Linked DNA regions of Homo sapiens: all the other regions are reported to be linked to region 1. Evidence: microRNA targets listed by miRTarBase, many of them from high-throughput screens and not tested one by one. Region 1 holds a microRNA gene; each other region holds the end of a gene's coding sequence.
The links. The annotated mature microRNA hsa-miR-4325 reads UUGCACUUGUCUCAGUGA and lies in region 1 at 2,936-2,953, shown strand. An mRNA with a match to its seed (bases 2 to 7 or 8) in the 3' UTR can be bound and repressed. Matches are read on the target gene's strand: a 7mer-m8 pairs with bases 2 to 8, a 7mer-A1 pairs with bases 2 to 7 and ends in A, and an 8mer does both.

Region 1 (4,244 bases):
TGACAAATAAAAATTGTGTATATCTATCCTATACAACATGTTGTTTTGAAATCTGTATCCATATTTAGCTTGATTAGCTAAATCATGCTAATGAACATACACCTTAGCTCACATACTTATCATTTTTTTGTGGTGAGAACACACACAGGTAGTCCTAAAATGTACTCTCAGCGATTTTCAAGAATACAATAGCTTGTCATGAACTACCTAGGCACCATGTTGTACAGTAGATCTCTTGACCTTATTCAGCCTGTCTAACTGGAATTTTATATCTTTTGACCCCTATCTCCCCAGTCCCCTAGCCCCCACTCTGTTGCTTACCATGCTACTCCCACTTCTATGAGTTTGGCTTTTTTAGATTTCACATATAAGCGAGACCATGCGGCATTTGTTATGTTTGTTTAGTTTGTTTTCATCAAGATGCGAATAAGGTCCATCCACACATGGCTGTTGGTTGATATGACTCTTAAGTCTCCTAAATTCTATAGGTTCTTCTCCAGTTTTCTTTCCTTGCAATTTACTTGTTGAAGAAACTGAGTCATTAGTCCCAGAGAGTTTTGTGCAATTAGGAGTTTGGGGATTGCATCCCTGTGATATAATTTACTATGTTTTTCTGTTTCAGGTATTTCTTATAAATTGAGAGTTGAATTTGGAGGCTTAACTGTTTCTGGTTTGATTTTTTTTTCATAAAAATATTTCGTAGGTGGTTTGAAATATTTATTTTTTATTTTTAGGCAGAGTCCTGCTCTGTCGCCCAGGCTGGAGTGCAGTGGTGTGATCTCCAGCTCACTGCAACCTCCGCCTCCCGGGCTCAAGTGATTCTCCTGCCTCAGCTTCCTGAGTAGCTGAGATTACAGGTACCCACCACCATGCCCAGCTAATTTTTGTATTTTTAGTAGAGATGGGGTTTCGCCATGTTGGCCAGGCTGGTCTTGAACTCCTGACCTCAGGTGATCCGCCCACCTTGGCCTCCCAAAGTGCTAGGATTACAGGCATGAGCCACCGTGCCCGGCCTAGGTTTAAAATATTTAGAACCTCCATTGTAACCTTCCAGAACTCCTCTGGCTGGGGCTTCCAGGTTGAGAACTTCAGAGCTAGCCTCAATCTCAGCCTCTCATTCACTGAAGTAGCAGCCAAGCCCGGGAGGATAAGTCATGCTGAGCAAAATCTCTGCAGCCTGCAAAATCCCTTCACAGACTACAGACCCAGATGGAGAAAGCTGAGGAGGGCTTTAGAAAAAGCAGCTTCCCTCTGCTGCACTGAGTCGCCCTGGGGATTTGCAGGGGAGGTTCCCCGACCTGGTTCGCTTTCTGCTTGTTAGCACGCAGGGTGGCTTTGTGCCACAGCCCAGCCTGACTCATCCTCTCTGCTCTTTATTTCTTTCCTCCTCACACCCTCGCTGAGCTGCTAATTGCTCTCCTCCACCCTCCCCCTTGGTTGGAATCCTGAGGCCCTGACCTAGAGACACCCCATCACAAGTGTTTTCCAGCTAGCTCCAAAACCTCATCTCTGCTTTATTTGAAAATCAGTCAACATTAAACAGAGACTTGCTCTGATTTAAGGAGACTTTTAAAACTGAAGTAATTTTCCTTCTCTCCCTTCGCTTCTTCGTTTTCTTTTTTATTGTTTGTTTTCCATTTTTTAAGACTTCTTGGCAACTGGTTTTGGGAGAAAGAGGCACTTTTGCAAAGGACCAGAAGGCATGTCCAGTGTTCAAACCCAAGGCGATGAAACCCCAAAAGGTGTTTTCCTTTCCACATCTCTGTCTCTTCCACTCCTAGGCACACACCAGAAGGGCTGCCCAATTTACACATTGGCAGGCTTATGATTCATCCAACAAATGGTTTAAGCACCTTCATGGTTCCCAGGGCCCTTCTTAGTACTGGAGATTCAACCAAGCTTGGCATCACCAAGTTCCTGCACACACATTGCTGGGGAAGGCAGATTAAAAAAAAAAAAAGTCCAGGAACAGTGGCTCATGCCTGTAATCCCATCGTTTTGGGAGGCTGAGGCAGGAAGATCACTTGAGCCCAGGAGTTTGAGACCAGGCTGGGCAACACATTGAGACCCCATCTCTGCAAAACATTTTTTTAAAAAATTAGCTGGACATTGTGGCTCATGCCAGTAGTCCTAGCTACTTGGGAGGCTGAGGCAGGAGGATCACTGGAGCCCGGGAGGTTGAGGCTGCAGTGAGCTATGATCAAGTCACTGCATTCCAGCTTGGGTGACAGAAGGAGACCCCATGTCTAAAGAAAAACAAAGAAGGAAAAAAAATACACAATTTAAGTTCAATCACAGTGTGTTAGAGGGAAAAACAATCTGTGTGGTAGGAAAGTGGGTGACTGGGCAGGAAAGTGCAATGAAGGTGGGAGAGAGGAGGGCAGAAGAAACCTGTCTCAGGTGAGGGCCTTGGAGCTAAAGCCTTAGCTATGAAGAAGATCTGAGGGGACGAGCTCCAGGCAGAGGGAGCGAGGAGCTATGCAAAGGCCCTGCGGAGAGATTCACTGGGAGAACTTAAAGGGCAGAGAGCAGGCCAACGTTGATGGAGAGATGAGCGGGGACGTCTATCGGCCACAGTGAGGAAACAGGACTCTGTTCTAAGGCAGTGATTCCAGTGGGGGCGATTTTGCCCCTCAAAGGACATTTGGCAATGTTGGGAGACATTTTTGGTTGCCACCCATTTGGGGGCAGTTGCTCCTGGCATCTAGTGGGAAGGGGCCAGGGATGCTGCCTATGTCCTGCAAAGCACAGGACAGCCCCTACCACAGAGAACTCATCAGTCCCAGATATTGATAGTGCTGAGGTTGAGAAACGCTGGTCTAAGAGTGGTGGGAGGCCATCAGAGGGTCTGAAGCAAGGGAAGGATGTCGTGTGTGTTAAAAAAGGAGAGTGCAGTGTGGGGAGGGAGAGTGGAGGTAAGGAGATGGGGAAGATGTTGCACTTGTCTCAGTGAGAGATGCTTCTAGATCCAGGAGGCAGACCTCAAGGATGGAGAGAAGGCAGATCCTTTGAGATTGTTCCTATTCAAGTAAGCTATGGTCAAACCTGTTTTGGAAATGTTGTACACTGTACCAAGATAAGCAGTCTAGCGTGAATCCCAGAGCAAGGCTATTTAAGTTCAGATCTTGGCTTTGCCTCTTGTTAGCTGTGTGATCTTGGGCAGGATTCTCAACCTCTCTGTGCCCCAGTTTTTCCATTTCTAAAGTGGAATAATAGGGTCCATCTCAGAGGGCTAATGTGAGGAGTAAATTAGTTAATATACATATAAATAAGCTAATAGATGACTAGAACACTGCGAATACTCAATAAGCATTATCTGGTATTAGTACATACTCCTTTTGGGAGTATCACTAGTTATATCCACAAATTAAAGTCTCTGAGAAGACCTGTATCAAAACTGTTGCTGGACTTGCTTAGCCTGCATTCACTAAACTTATATTTTCATGACACGTCCCCCACCCCCACCAACTCCCTGAACACTCTGAAAACCAGGGATCCTCAGAAAACATTTATTTATTTATTTATTGAGATGGAGTGTTGCTCTGTCCCCCAGGCTGGAGTGCAGTGGCGTGATCTCGTCTCACTGTAACCTCCATCTCCGGGGTTCAAGCAATACTCGTACCTGAGCCTCCCGAGTAGCTGGGAATCCAGACGTGCACCACCACACCTGGCTAATTTTTGTATTTTTAGTAGAGACAGGGTTTCACCATGTTGGCCAGGCTGGTCTTGAACTTCTGGCCTCAGGTGATCCACCCAGCTCACCCTCCCAAAGTGCTGGGATTACAGGCATGAGCCACTGCACCCAGCCCCTCAGAAAACATTTTAAAATCATCTTTATTGAGATCTAATTCACGCATCATAAAATTCATTCTTTTAAAGTATACAATTCAATGGGTTTTGGTGTATTGAAAAAGTTGTGCAATCATCCTCACAATCTAATTTTGGAACATTTTGTCTCCCCCAAAAGAAACTCTGTACTTATTAGTAGTCTCACCTCATTCTCCCTTCCCCCAGCCCTTGGAAGCCACTCATCTACTTTCTGTCTATGAATATGTCTGTTCCGGACATTTCACATAAATGGAGTCATACAGTATGTGGCCTTTTGTGATTGACTTCTCTCACTGAGTGTAGTGTTTTCAAGATACTGCCACGCAGCATAGATCTGTGTTTCATTCCTTGTTATGGTCAAATGCTATTCCACTGCATGGAGAGACCACATGTAGTTCATCTGTTCATCAGTTGCT
Region 2 (4,244 bases), not on the chromosome of region 1:
CACACATATATATAGCATGCACACACACACACACACACATATGTAACTCCACCCAGGATGGAAAGAAAGTCAGTAGTGGCCACGAGATGACAAGATTTCCAGTCTCTTCTGTGACTTTAATATACACCCAAACAAGGAGATGGACTACTAACTCAGGCTGGTCACTCCTGAACCAGGTTCCAGGCAATACTCCAGTTCTGGACATTTTAATAGCTGAAAATAACTAAGACTCCCCTGGCCTCAAGAACTGGGAGAACAGCTGAGTCTTGAGGGAGCTAAATTGGGAAAGGGCAGAGGTAATCCTAAGGAATCCCATGCAAGTCTTGACACTGGAGACAGCAAACCTAAGTTTGAAACACACAGCTTTCCATTCCAGACACTGTCAGCTCTAGAAAGATGGTATATGCAACAGGAAATCACTTTCTGGATTAAACTCTTCAGACTCGATGAGTGGGGTTACCTTTCTAGTTACAGATGTTAAAACATTCTTTTGTTTTCCATCCTGAAGTGGATTTTACAAGGTACCTCACCCACTTTGTAGTATGTCTAAAGCAGACTAACACTACTGACTTTTTTTTTGAGATGGAGTTTCGCTCTTGTTGCCCAGGCTGGAGCAGAGTGGCTTGATCTCGGCTCGACACAGCCTCCACTTCCCAGGTTCAAGCGATTCTCCTGCCTCAGCCTCTTGAGTAGTTGGGATTACAGGTGCCTGCCACCACGCCTGACTAATTTTTTGTATTTTTAGTAGAGATGGGGTTTCGCCATGTTGGGTAGGCTGGTCTCGAATTCCTGACCTCAGGTGATCCACCCGCCTCGGCCTCCCAAAGTGCTGGGATTACAGGTGTGAGCCACTGCGCTAGGCCACTACTGACTTTCTTTCCAGAAAAGACTCATTCTCCTAAGGCAGGACATGCTGTTGTTACATTATTACATTTTATAGCCCTCAGGGCCTACTAGGCAGACTAATCCCATGATGCGATTTGCCACAAGTAAAGCACAGAATAGAGTCAGGCAGGAATGACAAAGGAGTCAAAGGAAAAACTAGGCAATGGAAGCCTGGGCTGCGGAATAACAACTTGCAACTTCACAGACATCTCATCCCTTCTCCAGACTAGAGAAGCCTTAGGGTAAATCCTAGCTCTGACACTTACTAGCTGTGTGAATTTGGGTAAATTACTTAACCTCTAAACCATTTCTAATCTGTACAAAATCTTGTAGTATCTACTTGCTTCTTCAGTTGTGGGAAGGGAGATACAGCAGAAAAAGTGTTTGGCACAATGCTGGTTTACAGCAGCCCTCAACCATCAGTGGTGCTATTATTTTCCGCAAGAAGGTGAAGGGCCATAAAAGGCCTATACAGCTGCTGAAGTTCATTGCTAAAGGTATCCAAGGCTCAAATATTTCAAGTGCAAGCTAGACATGAAATTCACAGCTATCTCTGTGAATCACCCTTGATTCCTTCACTCCCTGTGAGTTAGTCACATACACTGTAGAAATGCTGTTACTCAGGCCCTTCCTATTTACCAGGACTTCATTTTAATGTAGACGCTTTCCTGTGTGGTTTGTTCAGAAAGTCTTCTAAATCTGTCCTAATTGCCAAGTTATTTAACCCCTGCCTAACCCCCCACCACCAGAAAACCCCCCCATAAAAGCAACTTGCTTAAAACTTTCTCTCAAGTCTCCCATGCCTAGTAGGTAAGGTCTGAGTATTTTACTTTAGCATACAAGGCCATTCACAACCTGAATTAACATGGTTTTCTGAGCCTTACTTGTCACTTCCAACTCTCCAATCTAACACATCTTTCCTGTTCTTCTAACATATTTCAGTCTTTCAAACCTTCTCATCATCATGCTCTTCCCTCAGTCTAGAAGAGATGACTTTCTTCTCTACCTCACAAAATCCTACTCAACCTTCAAGACTTAGCTAAAACGCTCTTTTAAATGAAGTCTTTCCTTCAGGCTTTATATATATATATATATATATATATATATATTTTTTTTTTTTTTTTTTTTTTTTTTGAGACAGGGCTTTGTCTTACTGTCCAGGCTGTAGTGCAGTGGTGTGATCATAGCTCATTGCAGCCTCAATCTCCTGGGCTCATGCAATCCTCCCGCCTCGGCCTCCAGAGCAGCTGGAACTACAAGCACATACCACCACGCCCAGCTAACTTTTTTTACTTTTAGTAGAGATGAGGTTTTGCTATGTTGCCCAGGCTGGTCTTGAATTCCTGAGCTCAAGTGATCCTCTTGCCTTGGCCTCCCAAAGTGCTGGATTACAGGTATGACTCACCATGCCCAGCTTACAACTTAATTTTCAACACAGCACTCAACAGAACATTCTATTTCTTATGTCTGCCTTGCCCAATAGCCACTTTTTTTTATTTCAATCATTTTTCTATTTGCCCCACTGTAGCAGTAACACATTTGAAAGTACTTTGTGAAAGTGTAAATTTTAAGGGATTATACCAGTACATATACTGATCTGAAAGAGAAATGGGAAGACTGAAGGCAGAAAATGATGTGGCTTCTTTCCCTTTACCAGTTCAAGGTCTTCATAAATTTTTCTTTTTTTTTCTGTAAAAAAAGAGATGGAGTCTCACTATGTTGCTCAGTCTGGACTTTTGAACTTCTGGGCTCAAGTGATCCTCCTACCTCAGCCTCCCAAGTAGCTGGAACTACAGGCATGTGCTACCATGCCTGGCTTAGATTCTGACCTTAGCAGTCATTATATGAAGGATAACCAGTTTGTAACATGGCCTAAAATAAAATGAACAGTTCTCAGGCAGCCCACCCAAGGAAATTCACACATAATGAGAAACCAGAGATGTGTTAGAGTTAAAAGGGTAAGTATAAAAAGTTTTACTTTTTTTGTGTAATTTTTAATACAAGACATCTAAAGTCTTAAACATTAAGTTGATCCCATCAGGAACAAAATATGGCACGAAGTTCAGAAACAAGAACATCTTTTTTTTTTTTTTTTGCACTTAGGCTTTTCAGTCACTATGCAATGATTATCGATTCGCCAAGGACAGTAACAGTCAAATACTAGAGAAAAGGAGATAGGAGAAACATCTTTTATTTCTTCTAAAGAGGTGAAAATAAGATTTTTTTAATATTTCTCACTCATAAGATTTTTAAACTCTTAAAAATGCAATATCTTCTTTTCAAAGCACATGCCATCTTAAAAAAATCTTAGCAATGTACATTTGCACTCAAAGAAAAACATGCAGCGCCATTGTCTTCTGACAAAATTCTGCATTAAAAAACCCTATGCGACTTTCTGCAAATATATTCCCTCTTTATTATTCAGGGACTCCAAACCACAAACATTCAGTGCAATATTTATCGTTTCTTATTTCCGTAGGAAACACAGAACCAATGATGTCTTCTGACAACTGTTTCCTGATGGTTGAGCAACAGTCTCCCTTTGCTTTATTTTAAAGTACTTTTTTTAACTTGCTGATGTAAGGTATAATTGGAATTCATTAAAACTTGAGGATCCAATGGAGGGTGAAGAATGAAGGATGGAGGAGGAATACTTAAGGTCTACCCTGTGCCATAAACTTAGGAAAAAAATGTACACAGAAAAAAACGACAACCAAAAAACCTCAGATTTTATCAATGCACCCTTTAAAAAGTGTTTTTTTAATTTCTGAAAGCAGCTTAATGTGAATCAAAAGCAGTTCCTGAGCAACTGCAGTAAACAGTCTTTTAAAATATATATGTACATACACATGTACATATATGTGTGTGTGTGTATATATATATATTTGCAACTTAGCTCATTTGGTTCTGTCTTAATTTACCTCCCCAGCATTTAGTCCCTTCTTTCCTTTCAGTCTCCAATGTGCAAGTACAATAGCATCAGCTCTGGGAGTTGGCGTGGAGCAGATGTTTCTTATCACTCCTGTGAGGTCATCTGCTTGTCTGTCAGGCCAGGTTTCCAGAGTTGCTGCAGGTCATAGTTCTCTCAATCTCACAAAACCTGTAAGCATCATGGCCACCTCACGTTTTCTTCATCAGACGCCGTGACTGCCATGTGTGGAGCTTGTTGTAGGCTGTCTGGAGCATCTCTTCTATGTGACTTACCAACTGAAAAACACAGCAAGACACTTAACAACTGGGCAAAAGCAGGGGAAGTTAATCCTTCCAACCCAAATCTGGCACACACTTCAGAGTGTAGTTTCGGAGCTCCTCTGTATTTCCCCAGTCAATGAGGTAATGTGCAAGCCCTCTGAGAAGGT
Region 3 (4,244 bases), not on the chromosome of region 1:
GTAACATACAGGCATCTGTACATGTTTCTGATTTCAGTACAGATAATAGTGGATCTCAACCAAAACAGAAGTCAGATACTGTGCTTTTTCCAGCAAAGGATCTCAAGGAAAAGGACCTTCATTCAATATTTACTCATGATTCTGGTCTGATAACAATAAACAGTTCACAAGAGCACCTAACTGTTCAGGCAAAGGCTCCATTCCATACTCCTCCTGAGGAACCCAATGAATGTGACTTCAAGAATATGGATAGTTTACCTTCTGGTAAAATACATCGAAAAGTGAAAATAATATTAGGACGAAATAGAAAAGAAAATCTGGAACCAAATGCTGAATTTGATAAAAGAACTGAATTTATTACACAAGAAGAAAACAGAATTTGTAGTTCACCGGTACAGTCTTTACTAGACTTGTTTCAGACTAGTGAAGAGAAATCAGAATTTTTGGGTTTCACAAGCTACACAGAAAAGAGTGGTATATGCAATGTTTTAGATATTTGGGAAGAGGAAAATTCAGATAATCTGTTAACAGCGTTTTTCTCGTCCCCTTCAACTTCTACATTTACTGGCTTTTAGAATTTAAAAAATGCATACTTTTCAGAAGTGATAAGGATCATATTCTTGAAATTTTTATAAATATGTATGGAAATTCTTAGGATTTTTTTACCAGCTTTGTTTACAGACCCAAATGTAAATATTAAAAATAAATATTTGCAATTTTCTACAGAATTGAATACCTGTTAAAGAAAAATTACAGAATAAACTTGTGACTGGTCTTGTTTTACATTATATATATGTTCGTAATTGTTTCCTGAGAATTACAATGAATAATAATTTGCTTTGTCACTGAAAACCACCAGTGAAGTGCAATTTGGGGAATATCAAACTTAGCATTATACATTTGGATATTCTAGTTGTATTGTAAATTTTAAAAGATTATCAGGATAACATGACCTTGCCTTGAAAAACCTAAATTTCATACAGAAAGGAAAAATACATTTCTATGCTTGAATTCTGGAAATCATCAGAAATATTGACACTTGAGGGTCACTGGTGGACCATGCTAGTATTTTGGTGCTGAGTAATTAGATTATGTATAGGGGTAACTGGAAGCCATGAAGGAAGGACTTAACCAGGCTACCAAGTGGAATATAATTTATCTGCTATTTTTAATTACTTACCTTGTAAATAACTTTAATAATATTCAAAAGTTGACTCTCCTGTGGCTCATGCCACAGGATCCCAGCACTTTGGGAGGCCGAGGCAGGCTGATCACGAGGTCAGAAGATCAAGACCATCCTGGCCAACATGGTGAAACCTTGTCTACTAAAAATACAAAAAATTAGCTGGGCATGGCGGCATGCGCCTGTAGTCCCAGCTACTCCCTCCAGAGGCTGAGAATTGCTTGAACCTGGGAAGTGCAGGTTGCAGTGAGCCAAGATTGTGCCACTGTATTCCAGACTGGGTGACAGAGTGAGACTCCATCTCAAAAAAAAAAAAGTTGACTCTACCCCCTAATTTGGTAGGAGATGAAGGAGAAAAGGATGGCATTGAATTATAGATACAGTTTTGGGATATATACAAGGATTGCCTTGATCTGGCACTTACTGATACAAGCATTTGGAGAAGAGAAAATTCAAATATAAGAAATTTCAATTTGAATCTGTGGATATAAGGCATTTGCCTTTGAGTATGTTCTTGTAGGAGTAAGACTACCACCAGTGACATTCAATTGGTTCTATTGCATAGTACATGAATCTATTGTCACTAAAAATTAGGTTACTAATCTTAATTTTTTTGAAATATATGATTCTCAGTACAGGACTAATTCATATGCTTTTCCTGCATACATTATTTTGATCATTTGGATAACATCAATGAACACTGGCTTTTTAACACCTTTGTTTTTCATACCAGTACCTGAAGTAGGCTCAATAAAAGAGTCTTTACAGTGCATACACGCAAACCCTGTTTCCATTGTAAATTATTGTTCCATTTTCTATCACAAATACATGTATGTATGTGTAAACATACGTAAGGTTTCGTAGACAACCTTTGAAAAATCTAAATGGAACTTGGAAAATTATTTGCAGGTTTATTTCCCTTTAGTTATCAGTGTTCCCCAAATTTTCCAAATAACTGAAAGGTATGTAAAGTCACTGTATGATCCTTTGACTTTAAGAGTAACAGTGTCTGGCTGGGCGCGGTGGCTCACGCCTGTAATCCCAGCACTTTGAGAGGCCAAGGCGGGCGGATCACGAGGTCAGGAGATCGAGACCATCCTGGCCAACATGATGAAACCCTGTCTCTACTAAACTACAAAAAATTCGCTGGGCATGGTGGTGCGCTCCTGTAATCCCAGCTACTTGGGAGGCTGAGGCAGGAGAATCGCTTGAACCCCGGAGGCAGAAATTGCAGCGAGCCGAGATTGTGCCATTGCACTCCAGCCTGGTGACAGAGCGAGACTCCGTCTCAAAAAAAAAAAAAAAAAAAGTGTCTTCAATTTACAGTGGTACTCTGGGCATCATTTTACATTAAGTTATACTTACTAAGGAGAAAAAGTCTGAACCCTTCAGTAAAAGTTGTTAAACTATTTGACACTGGATATTGGACTTTTGGAACACCACATGGTCTTCATAATGAGTATTCAGCTTTTTTCAAGTGCTTAAATTTCAGTTTACTTGGAATAATTTCAGTTTACTTGGGCCACCACATACAGTTTGGATTGTGCTGTGCAGCTATGCAGATGGGCACCCAGCCAGTGAGATGAAGGCAGGTTATTTGCAGCAAGTAGTGTGTCCTGGCAATGAGGTGCATCTACCTAGAGGTAGGGGTAGTTTTTCCTATTTTTTACCAAGGCACAGCCAAGGTAGTGTTTACCCAGAAGGTTCTTTGCCTTTTTGTTTTTGTTTGTTGTGTGTGTGGTTTTTCTTTTTTTTTCTTTTTTTTTTTTTTTATTGTTTTTGTTGTTGTTGTTTTGATACTAGGTCTCTCTTGTCCAGGCCTGGTTACCATGGTGCAGTCAGCTCACTGTGGCCTCAGACTCCTGGGCTTAGCTGGGCACTGGCTCATACCTGTAATCCCAGTACTTTGGGAAGCTGAGATAGGAGGATCACTTGTGATCAGGAGTTCAAGGTCAGCCTGGGCAGCATAGCTAAACTTCGTTTTTACAAAAATATATATACACATACATATACATATATATATATGTCTATATAATATATATGTATAATATATATATTTGTCTATACATATATAGACAAAAGTCTATAAAAAGTCATACCACGAGGCCCTCATGGTATGACTTTTGGGTTCCCACAGGAGGCAGACTGAGATGGAATTTGGTATGCAGATGTTTTCTAAGGGGTGCCTTTGGACACCAGTTGACCCCACAGGCAGCTTTTCAAGAGTTGCTAGGTGAAGATGACCAATAAGTCATTTGAGTATGGGTCACTCTAGGAAGGAGCATGACTGTGGGCAACGAGGCTCCTCAGCTGACACAATCCCTGAAGGAGCTGACAGTAGAAGTTGAAAGCTGTTTACTGTCAGTACTCCCAGAAGCTGGGGCAACAAGTTACTGAAGAGGGATCAGGATCAATTACCCCACATAGTGATTCTGCCTGTTGGGTTATTGGCACAAGGAACTCAAAACGGCCGGGTGGTGGTCGCAGCTTATAATTCAACAGGAGTCGCTGAGGTAGGAAACACATTCAAGAGGGTCAAATAAGTGACGGCAAGCAGGTCTACTCCTGTTCCACTCATGGGTTGCCAGACTTATTTTGTCGGGGGCATAGCACCATAAAAACATCTTGAACTCCAACTGTATACTGCATCTTAAATGACAGCCTATTCTCAAGAATATCACCTCCATGCTGATGCTAATTAACAGGCCCTTCCAATACTCTATCAGGAAGCTTCTGGTTGATTCAATATATAATAAGGCTTGTGGATTGCATGATCATGGGCCTACCCCCATGCCTCCTTTGCTGTAAAGGACATCCCCTGGTCTGATACGAAGTTATATATGATGCCACGCCAGTGAAACTCTAAGTCTTAAAAATGCAATGTGAACGACAACAACAACAAAAAGACCTGGCATGTCTATTACTGTGTCCAGTATAATCGACTAGCCACTTCATGCCTAGTTTCTGGCAGTTTGGGCATCTGGCAGTGACAAAAACACTAGCTCGGCTTTGGCGAATAGGAACCTATGCTATGGAGCCCAGAAATAACTTCCATTACTGC

Region 2: the mRNA of GTF2H1 is a reported target of hsa-miR-4325. Seed matches in the 3' UTR shown: 7mer-A1 at 3,207-3,213 and 8mer at 2,979-2,986.
Region 3: the mRNA of DBF4 is a reported target of hsa-miR-4325. Seed matches in the 3' UTR shown: 8mer at 862-869 and 7mer-m8 at 1,416-1,422.

What each region holds. Positions count from the first base shown.
Region 1 is chr20:57,320,273-57,324,516 of GRCh38, reverse strand. It overlaps MIR4325 (microRNA 4325), which reads left to right and starts at 2,926; the gene lies at 2,926-3,015. All of the region lies in intron 2 of LOC105372687 (a long non-coding RNA gene), which reads left to right.
Region 2 is chr11:18,365,631-18,369,874 of GRCh38, reverse strand. GTF2H1 (general transcription factor IIH subunit 1) reads right to left here. Exons shown (of 15, transcript NM_005316.4): 15 at 2,830-4,092. The coding sequence ends at 4,006. Among named protein-coding and RNA genes, the nearest start is that of MIR3159, 20 kb to the left of the region's middle.
Region 3 is chr7:87,907,589-87,911,832 of GRCh38, forward strand. DBF4 (DBF4-CDC7 kinase regulatory subunit) reads left to right here. Exons shown (of 12, transcript NM_006716.4): 12 at 1-1,965. The coding sequence ends at 575. Among named protein-coding and RNA genes, the nearest start is that of ADAM22, 25 kb to the right of the region's middle.